Linked DNA regions of Homo sapiens: region 2 is linked to region 1. The links come from fine-mapping of genetic effects on gene expression. A gene starts in region 1. The other region holds a variant in brackets. All regions are shown on one strand. Distances are from middle to middle.

Region 1 (5,369 bases):
CTCTTGTTGCCCAGGCTGGAGTGCAATGGCGCGATCTTGGCTCACTGCAACCTCTGTCTCCTGGGTTCAAGCAATTCTCCTGCCTCAGCCTCCGGAGTAGCTGGGATTACAGGCATGCACCACCATGCCCGGCTAATTTTGTATTTTTAGTAGAGACAGGGTTTCTCCATGTTGGTCAGGCTGGTCTTGAACTCCCGACCTCAGGTGGTCCACAACCTCGGCCTCCCAAAGTGCTGGGATTACAGGCGTTAGCCACCATGCCCAGCCTGGCACAATTTAGCATAAAGTTTTTGAGGTCTTTGTACTATTCCAGTAGGACAGTTGGTGAAACTTGAATAAGATCCGTAAAATACTTGATTACTAACTTGTATCAATGGAAATCTCTTGGTTTATAACTGAATTTTGGTTATACAAGTTTTTTTTTTTTTTTTTTTTTTTTTTTTTTTTTTTTTTTTTTTTTTGAGACACAGTCTCGCTCCGTCGCTCAGGTGTGATCTTGGCTCACTGCATCCTCTGCCTCCTGGGTTCAAGCAATTCTCCTCTCTCAGCCTCCCAAGTGGCTGGGATTATAGGTGCCTGCTACCACGCCTGACTAATTTTTGTATTTTTAGTAGAGATGGGGTTTCACCATGTTGGCCAGGCTGACCTCAAACTCCTAACTTCAGGTAATCCGCCCACCTTAGCCTCCTAAAGTGTTGGGATTACAGGCATGAGCCACCGCGCCTGGCCGAGACTGTAGATTTTTGCAACTTTTTTGTAAGTCTAAAATAATTTCAGCCAAGCATGGTGGCTCATGCCTGTAATCCCAGCACTTTGGGAGGCTGAGGCAGAGGATCACTTCAGCCCAGGAGTTTGAGACCAGCCTGCAACATAGCAAGACTCCATCTCTGGAAAAAAAAAAAAAAAATTAGAGCCTGTGGTCCCAGCTACTTGAGAGGCTTGAGGTGGGAGGATTGCTTGAGCCCGGGAGTTTGAGGATGCAGTGAGGCATGTTGAGCCACTGCACTCCAGCCTGGGCAACAGAGCACGATCCTGTCTCAAATATAAAATAATTTCTAAATAAACTTTCTTGTTCAAGCTCAGGGTCTGAGTTGTGCACTGCCTATGATCCACTCCACAGAAGTTCTGATTTCTTCTCTGTGCAATGGTTCTGCCGGCCTTTCTGCCGCCCAGAGGTCCTGGTGAGTGGGCATCAGAGACTCCTTAGGGCTCTGTGGAGGCTCAGGGAGGAGCTTTCGCTTCCCTCCTGATGCTGGTGCCTCCAGAGCTAGACAGGAAGATGGAAGCTGGGTGGCCCGAGCAGGGGTGGGGGCTTGGCTGGCCCTCCTGTCAGCTTGAGCTGGCTTGAGCCCAGGCAGGGCCCTGACAGCCTGGGCAGGCTCAGAGGGAGGGAGGTGGGAACCAAGAGACCCGGGGAGGGCTCCCGGGGCCAAGACCCAGGTCCCTGCCCTGCACATCTGCCAAGGGACTTCCTCAGAAGCTGCTGATGTTAGGCTTTGGCTTCCTGCTGTGGACTGAGGGGATGAACTCCGACGGGAGGACATTCAGGCCTTGGAGGAAATGAGAGCTTGGCTGACAGGAGGGCCTGGACTCACGAAGACACTTGGACACCCACAAGCACAGAGACATGGGTGTGTGACAACTGACCAAGGGGCATGCAGGTATGTATGCGTGGTGCACACAGACACCCTGGGCACAGCCCACTGGCACCAGCGTCAACCCCTGCGTGGTGGGCTGCATCCCACCCTTCAGGCAGGCCCTGTGGGGCAGGTTTCAGGGAGGAAGGAGGCTGAGTGGGCAGAGTCTGAGGACGCGGCCACCATCGCTCCCTGGCACTACATCTGTGTCCGGGATCTAGGAGGCAGTCCTCCATCACTGAGCCCCAAGATGACTGTCACAGCTTGGTCTAAAGCAGGGGCCGGGCCTGAGCCCTGGCCCCTGCCCTGGAGGAGCTCACAGAGCCCCCAGCTGGGGCATATCTGGTTTCCGGGGGCAGGGGCGATACCCAGAGGAGGAAGAAGGGATTCTGAGAGAGCCCAACAGGCTCCGAGCCTCAGGCTGGAGCTGAGCTTGGGGCAGCAAGGAAGGACCAGGTGCGAGGGCAGAACCATGCGGCCCGACCCCTGCAGCACGGCCTGTGGCCTCCCCCAGCTCCTGCCCGTGCTTCTGGGTCAGTCTGGACTTTGCCACTTCTGACCAAAAGCCACCGCAAACCCACTCAAGCCAAAAGAGGAAGTGACCGTTAGGCCCAACTGGGAAGGCTGGCGGCCAGGGGCACTCCAGGCAGGGCGAGGGGGGCGGCCGGGGGCGCTCCAGGCGGGGCGAGGGAGACACCCAGAACTCCAGGCAGGAGTCCTCGGGTGCCACCTTTCCTCTCCACCTGGCCCTGCGTGGGCTCTGTCCTCAGGGTGGCCCGCCGTAGTCCCCCTCCCCACTCTGAGTTTCCTGTCCCAAAGTCCTAAGGAAGTTTCCAGAACTACATCTCACCATCTTGAGTCAGCCTTGGCTCAGTGTCCATCTCACAGGCCTGGAAGGGGCAGGAGTCAGCACTGTCCAGACCACAGGGCCTGAGTGTGGGGAGGGCAGCCGTCTAGGAAGGTGGTGGAGGGTTGTTACCTTGAGGCAAGAGGGCTGCGGGGCAGAAAGACACAGCAGGTGACTGTTGTGGGAGGCCCAAGAGAGGCCTGGGAGAGGGATGGCCCACAAGGGCTGACCCTCCCGCCACCCAGGGGGCCTTGGACAGGTTTCCTCCTGGCAGGGTGGCCCTTGTGCATGGAACCCCTACAACGACTAAGGCTGGCAGGCATGAGGTTTCCTGAAGGAGAAAGAGCTTGTGGGGCCCAGTGTGGCTGGGGGGGCGCTGGGACTCCATTCTGAAGCCAAAGGCACTGGGAAGGGCTTCCGCAGAGGAGGGTTTGGCAGGGGTTGCCAGGAACAGCCTGGATGGGGACAGGGAACAGATAAGGTGGGTGGAGGAGTTAGCCGGGAGCCTGGGGCTGGCTCCAGCATGATGTGGGGGTCTGCAAGGCCCTGGAGAAAGTGGGGTGGTGCAGCAGGGGGCACACCCACAGCTGGAGCTGACCCAGATGGACAGCTTGGGCTCTGCCACGCGGGACTAGGCAAGGAAGGGGCACGAACAAGCAGGAAGTGGTGAGGCGGTCTCCAGCTAGCTGCTCTCCCCTGCCCAGACTTTGGTTTCCTCCCTGCTGGCTTGGCCTGGCTCCCTGGCTCTGTGTGGTATGGTCACACCCCCGTGCACCCCCTCCACTGAGATGGGGCGGGGAGAGCACCGAGGCTGCTCTTCCTCTCCTGGGCCGTCCTCTGAGCAGCAGACGGGGCTAAGCGTTCCCCAGCTCGCCTTCACACACAGCCCGTGCCACCACACCGACGGTACCATGAAGGACGAGGTAGCTCTACTGGCTGCTGTCACCCTCCTGGGAGTCCTGCTGCAAGGTGGGCTGGTTCCTATCTAGGAAGAGGGTGGGCCTTAGATCCCTACAGCTTGCCCTCTGCCCCCTAGGCCCAGGTGGAGGGCAGAGGTGGGGACTCCAGCCCAGGCCCAAGCTGGAAGAGGGTGGGGACTTTCAGGGAACTGGGGGGCACCTGGCTGTGAGAGCTGTAGGACTTGGGGGTGGCAAGGGTGCCAGGACAAATGGTAGGATAGCCATGGGCTTGGGGAAGCTGATCTCTGCTCTTTCCAGCTGTCCCCTCTCTGGGCGTCCCAGCAAGCGGCCCCCATTCCCTGGCTCTGCTTCAAAGGCACCTCCATACTGGGACCACGTGGAGCAGGGTAGAGGTGGGACTCCTTCCTCCAGCCCCCTAAAAAGAGCCTGCTTAATGCCTTTCTCAGACTGGCCCTAAAGGACACATTCCTTGGCCAGATATCCTTGCCACCTAAGAGACACCACTACTCCACAGTGTGTGGGCTAGGATAAGGCACAGCCTGGGGAGGGGGCTCTGAAGGGGCTGAACAGACAGGCCAGCCTGACCTCCAGCTGCTCCTGCACTGAGCTGGATGGCCACCCTGTGACACCCATCTGCAGAGGGCCCAGAACCAAAGGTGCCAGGGCTGCAGGACTCAGGGGGAGATGGTCCGACGGGAGGTCTGGGGAGGGAGCGCACAGCCAGCACTGGTCTGTGTGTGGTCTGGCCTGGCCTCACCTGACCAAGAGAAGGGCTCCTGCCCACAGAGAAACTTTAGGGCCAGCCCACCCTCTGCAACTACCCCAGCCCTGGGGTCCTGGGGTTAGGCTAGGAGAGTCCCAGCTGCAACCTCCTGGGAGCAGGAGAGAAGGTGTCTGTCAGATTTAGGCCTGGGACCGGAATGCAGGAACAGAGAAACTGAGGTTTGGAGGCACAGGGACGCAGGCTTTAGTGATCCCGGCCTGAGGCAGGGTCAGAGGGCCCTGCTGGTGGGCGCTGGTAGGTGGGTGACCAGGGACTGTTAGCTACAGGGAGTGTGCTTCCTTGCACCTGGGAGGATGCAGCCAGCTCTGCCCTCAGACTCCCGAGGCACTTCCTGGCCAGGGACCTGAAAGCTGCATTTGCCTGTGTTTTGAGAGTGAAATGATTCAGAAACAAGGACTCAAGTGGTCTCTCTCGCGGAGCAGGTGTCCCTGTGCCTGAATCACTCACCCTCCCCCATACACTCACAGGTTGGGACAGGGCCTCTCTGCGCCCCAGGCTTCAGCCCTGCCCTCCTCGCTGAATGTCAGGGACACAGGGCAGGCCAGGGATGGGTGAGACGAGAGGTCTCCTCGGGCGGGGAGGGGGCGGGGTTCCGCCTTAGGGAGGAGAGGACACGGCCAAGTGAAGGGCCAGATTGCAGGATCCCTCCCACTCCCATCTCTGGGGCTTCGGGTGTCCAGACCTGACTCCCGCTCCCCCTCCTCCCCCAGCCTACTTCTCCCTGCAGGTGATCTCGGCGCGCAGGGCCTTCCGCGTGTCGCCGCCGCTCACCACCGGCCCACCCGAGTTCGAGCGCGTCTACCGAGCCCAGTGAGGCGCGGCGGGAGGGCGCGGGGCGGGGAGCGAGCCCCAGGCGGGTCCGGGTCGCAGGACCATCCCGGCCGGCGCGCTCATCCCACCCGCCCACCGCAGGGTGAACTGCAGCGAGTACTTCCCGCTGTTCCTCGCCACGCTCTGGGTCGCCGGCATCTTCTTTCATGAAGGTCGGGGTGTGGGGCAGGGGCGCACGCGCTGGACCCCCGGGACCCGCGCAGGGCGCTCACCAGGCCCGTGCGTACCTCTCGCAGGGGCGGCGGCCCTGTGCGGCCTGGTCTACCTGTTCGCGCGCCTCCGCTACTTCCAGGGCTACGCGCGCTCCGCGCAGCTCAGGTGAGGGCCGGGCGGGGAGCGGGGCGGGGCCG
Region 2 (5,369 bases), 80 kb before region 1:
ATTGCTTGAACCTGGGAGGGAGCCAAGATCATTGTGCCACAGCATTCCAGCCTGGGCGAAAGTGAGACTCAATCTCAAAAAAAAAAAAAAAGGCTGGGCGCGGTGGCTCACACCTGTAATCCCAGCACTTTGGGAGGCCGAGGCGGGTGGATCACAAGGTCAGGAGATCGAGACCATCCTGGCTAACATGGTGAAACCCCGTCTCTACTAAAAATACAAAAATATTAGCCGGGCGTGGTGGTGGGCACCTGTAGTCGCAGCTACTTGGGAGGCTGAGGCAGGAGAATGGCACGAACCCGGGAGGCAGAGCTTGCAGTGAGCCGAGATCGCGCCACTGCACTCCAGCCTAGGAGACAGAGCAAGACTCCATCTCAAAAAAAAAAAAAAAAGATTGTATATCTGGAGAGTACCCCAGCCTCCAAACAAGAAGAATCTCAGCCTGGTATGGTTGCTCATGCGTGTAATCCCAGCACTTTGGGAGGCTGAGGCGGGCGGATCACTTGAGATCAGGCATTCGAGACTAGCATGGCCAACATGGTAAAACCCCGTCTCTACTAAAAATACAAAAATTAGCTGGGCGTGGTGTTGAGTAGCTGGTGTAATCCTAGCTACTCGGGAGGCTGAGGCAGCAGAATTACGTTAACCCAGGAGGCAGAGGTTGCAGTTGAGTCAAGATTGTATCACTGCACTCCAGCCTGGGTGGCAGAGGAAGATTCTGTACCCCCTCCACGAAAGAAAAGAATCTCTTCACTTTAGTATCTTAGTTGGGAAATGACCTTAATTTGTCAGCATTAAAAGAAGCTTCTTGGCCACGTATGGTGGCCCACACCTGTAATCCTAACACTTCGGGAGGCTGAATCGGATGGATTGCTTGAGTCCAGGAGTTCCAAACCAGCCTGACAACATAGTCAGACCCTGTCTCTACAAAATCTTAAGAATTAACTGAGTATAGTGGCATGTGCCTGTAGTTTCAGCTACTCAGGAGGCTGAGGTATGAGGATTGCTTGAGCCCAGGAAGTCGAGACTGTAGTGAGCCATGATCTTGCCACTGCACTGTAGCCTGGGTGACAAAGTGAGATGCTGTCTCAAAAAACAAAACAAAAAACCCAAAAAACTTCTTTTCCACAGGAACTGAGGTTCGAGATAATTTTAAGAATAGAATAGGTGTTTTTGGCCAGGCATGGTGGCTCGTGCCTATAATCCCAGCACTTTGGGTGGCCGAGGTGGGCGGATCACCTGAGGTCAGGAGTTTAAGACCAGCCTGGCCAACATGGTGAAGCCCCATCTCTACTAAAAATACAAAAATTAGCCGGGCATGGTGGAGGGTGCCTGTAATCCCAGCTACTCAGGAGGCTGAGGCAGGAGAATTGCTTGAACCCTGGAAGCGGAGGTTGCAGTGAGCCAGATTGTGACACTGCACTCCAGCCTGGGCGACAGGAAGACTCTGTCTCAAAAAAAAAAAAAAAAAAATTGGTATTTTTTGCTGGACATGGTGGCTCATGCCTGTAATCCCAGCACGATGGGAGGCTGAGGCGAGCAGATCACTTGAGGTCAGGTGTTCAAGACCAGCCTGGCCAACATGGTGAAACGTCATCTCTACTGAAAATACAAAAATTAGCCGGGTGGGGTGGTGGGCGCCTATAATCTCAGATACTCAGGAGGCTGAGGCAGGAGAATCACTTGAACCCGGGAGGCGGAGGTCACGGTGAGCCAAGGTCATGCCATTGCACTCCAGCCTGGGCAACACAGTGAGACTCCGTCCCCCACTCCAAAAAAAAAGGTGTTTTTTTTTTTTTTTTCTACAAAGAGCTTTGCTGATCTAATTTCTTCCTTTTTTTTGTTGTTGTTGTTGAGAAATGTTGAATAATAGAATAAGTTATATTTATAATTATACATAAATCCAATAAAAATAGTTTTTCAGAAGTATCTTGTAGTTGAACTTATTTGGATGCTCCAATACCTGGACAATTGACAATTGAGTTGAATCATTTTGATACAGGGTTTTTTTTGGTTTGTTTGTTTATTGAAGCTTTTCCTGCTAGTTTGAGATCATAAATAGGCATGCCTCTTTCTGAAGAATATAATAACCTTTTTTTTTTTTGAGATGGAGTTTCACTCTTGTTCCCCAGGCTGGAGTGCAATTGTGTGATCTTGGCTCACCACAACCTCTGCCTCTTGCATTCAAGCGATTCTCCTGCCTTGGCCTCCCAAGTAGCTGGGATTACAGGCATGTGCCACCACGCCTGGCTAATTTTTTTTTTTTTTTTTTTAGTAGAGATGGGTTTTCTCCATGTTGGTCAGGCTGGTCTCAAACTCCCGACGTCAGGTGATCTGCCCGCCTCAGCCTCCCAAACTGCTGGGTTATAGGCGTGAGCCACCGCGCCTGGACTACCTTTTTAATTTTTTTGAGGCGGAGTATTGCTCTGTCACCCAGGTGGGCGTGCAGTGGCGTGATCTTGGCCTACTGTGACGTCTGCCTCCCGGGTTCAAGCGATTCTCTTGCCACAGCCTCCTGAGTAGCTGGGATTACAGGCTTGTGCCACCATGCCCAGCTAATTTTTCTTTTTTTTATTATTATTATTTTTTTTTTTTTCCAGCTAATTTTTCTGTTTTTAGTAGAGACCGGGTTTCACCATGTTGGCCAGGCTGGTCTCGAACTCCTGACCTCAAGTGATCTGCCCGCCTCAGCTCCTGAAAGTGCTGGGATTACAGGTGTGAGTCACTGTACCCAGCCTAGAATATAACAACCTTTTTTTCTTTTTTTTGTGACGGAGTCTTGCTTTGTCATCCAGGCTGGAGTGCAGTGGCGCCATCTTGGCTCACTGCAGCCTCCGCTTCCCAGGTTCCAGTGATTCTCCCGTCTCAGCCTCCCCAGTAGCTGGGATTACAGGCACACACCACCATGTCCAACTAATTTTTGTATTTTTAGTAGAGCCTTGTTGGCCAGGCTGATCTCAAACTCTTGGCCATCTGTTGATCCGCCCACCTCGGCCTCCCAAAGTGCTAGGATTACAGGCGTGAGCCACTGAGCCCAGCTTAACCTTTTTTTGTTATTTCCAAAAGTAATACATATTTAAGGTATAGAAATTCAGAAGCCATAAGTAAGCAAAAAGAAAACACTTAAAGCGAGGGAGAGGGGTTGAAGACAAGTTGGTTAATTGGTACAGAAATAAGGTAGAAGGAATAAATTCTAATATTTGATAGTACAGTAGGGAAATTATAGTTAGAACAATTTATGGTGTATTTCAGAAGAGCTGGAAGAGAATTGTACTGTTCCCAATACAAAGAAAAAGTAAATGGAGCCAGGTGCAGTGGCTCAGGCCTATAATCCCTGC[G/A]CTTTTGGGAGGCTGAGGTGGGAGGATCACTTGAGGCCAGGAGTTCTAGACCAGCCCGGGCAGCATAGTGAGACCTTGTTCCTACAAAAAAATAATTATTCAGGCTTGGTAGCATGTACCTCTAGTCCCAGGTGCTCGGGAGGCTGTGGTATAAAAGGATCCCTTGAGTCCAGGATTCGAGATTGCAGTGAGCTATGATTGGGCCACTGCACTCCAGCGTGGGTCACAGAATGAGACTCTGTCTCTATAAAATAGAAAGAAAAGGTAAATGTTTAAGGTTACAGATATTTCAATTACTGTGATTTGTTTGTTTTGTTTTGTTTTGTTTTGTTCTTTTTGTTTTTTTGAGATGGGAGTCTCTCTCTGTTGCCCAGGCTGGAGTGCAGTGGCCTGATCTCAGCTCACTGCAACTTCTGCCTCCCGGGTTCAAGCGATTCTCCTGCCTCAGCCTCCTGAATAGTTGGGACTATAGGCATGCGCCACCATGCCCGGCCAATTTTTTTGTATGTTTAGTAGAGTTGGGGTTTCACCATGTTGGTCAGGCTGGTCTCGAACTCCCAACCTCAAATGATGGGCCTGCCTCAGCCTCCCAGAGTGCTGGGATTATAGGCATGAGCCACTGGGCCCGTCCAATGACTGTGATTTGGTCATTACACATTATATACATGTATCAAAATATCACACGTACCCCGAAAATATGTACAAGTACGATATGTCAATAAAAACATACACAAAGAAGTCACTTAAAATTATCTTAAACATCAGCATTGTGATATATATTTGTCAATATGTGTATATACACATATACAACTTTACATGCTATATCTAACTTTTTTATTTTTTTATTTATTTTTATTTTTTTTTTTGAGACGGAGTCTCGCTCTGTCTCCCAGACTGGAGTGCAGTGGTGCGATCTCCGCTCAGTGCAAACTCCGCCTCCCGGGTTCACGCCATTCTCCTGCCTCAGCCTCCCGAGTAGCTGGGACTACAGGTGCCCACCACCACGCTGGGCTAATTTTTTGTATTTTTGGTAGAGACGGGGTTTCACCGTGTTAGCCAGGATGGTCTCGATCTCCTGACCTCGTGATTCGCCCGTCTCGGCCTCCCAAAGTGCTGGGATTACAGGCGTGAGCCACTGCGCCCGGCCCTTTTTTATTTGAGACAGAAACACTGCAATCTCCACCTCCCAGGTTCAAGCGATTCTTGTGCCTTAGCCTCCCAAGTAGTTGGGTTTACAGGTGTGCACCAACATGCCCACCTAGTTTTTGTATTTTTAGTAGAGACAGGGTTTCACCATGTTGGCCAGGCTGGTCTCGAACTCCTGGCCTCAAGTGATCCACCTGCGTTAGCCTCCCAAAGTGCTGGGATTACAGGCATGAGCCACCACACCCGTTTCTTAACAACAAAAGAGTGTGAAGTTCTTCCTCACAGAAATATTCATTTTCATTATCACTGACACAGCAGCATAGGATTCCTTGTTTGGATGTGCTGTAACTCAGTCTCCTGTGTATTAGATATCTAGGTGTGGAATCTGGGCTTTAATATACATCACACTTAAGATGCTTTTATGGGGCCCATGTGGCTGGGCACGGTGGCTCACACCTGTAGTCTTAACACCTTGGGAGGCTGAGGTTGGGCAGATTGCCTGAGCTCAGGAGTTTGAGACCAGCCTGGGCAACATTGCAAAACCCCATCTCTACTTAAAATACAAAAAATTAGCTGGGCATGGTGGCACGGGGCCGTCTGTAGTTCCAGCTACTGCGGAGGCTGAGGCAGGAGAATCGCTTGAACCTGGGAGGCGGGCGTTGCAGTTAGCCGAGATCACACCACTGCACTCCAGCCTGGGAGACAAAGCGAGACTCTGTCTCAAAAAAATAAAATAAAATTTTAAAAAATGCTTTTATGGATTTAAAATTGTTTTTTCATTCTCCATGGGAGTTAAAAAGTAGAAAGTAGAATCATGAGTGGACATGCGTTTTAATAAATTGGAGGTTTGTGTAATTTCAGTAACGTAATAATACCAGCTCTATTAAA

Alleles and levels. Alleles are on the strand shown, and positions count from the first base shown. SD is a standard deviation of normalised expression in the study named.
With allele A in place of G in region 2, the expression in monocytes of the gene that starts at base 3,301 in region 1 is lower (large effect, 1.4 SD a copy in BLUEPRINT).

The links. PIP is the estimated chance that this variant, and not a neighbour inherited with it, causes the effect.
Region 2: its variant is the best candidate, but not a certain one, in a credible set for the expression of LTC4S in monocytes (BLUEPRINT, PIP 0.51).

The regions. Positions count from the first base shown.
Region 1 is chr5:179,790,686-179,796,054 of GRCh38, forward strand. LTC4S (leukotriene C4 synthase) reads left to right here and starts at 3,301. Exons shown (of 5, transcript NM_145867.2): 1 at 3,301-3,453; 2 at 4,899-4,998; 3 at 5,101-5,171; 4 at 5,256-5,337. The coding sequence starts at 3,396. RefSeq lists enhancers at 2,489-3,116, 2,691-2,770, 2,791-2,940, 4,424-5,096 and silencers at 3,291-3,360, 4,906-5,369.
Region 2 is chr5:179,710,335-179,715,703 of GRCh38, forward strand. The region is part of intron 7 of CANX (calnexin); the gene reads left to right. Among named protein-coding and RNA genes, the nearest start is that of CANX, 14 kb to the left of the region's middle. The variant G/A (reference allele first, on the strand shown) is at 3,336.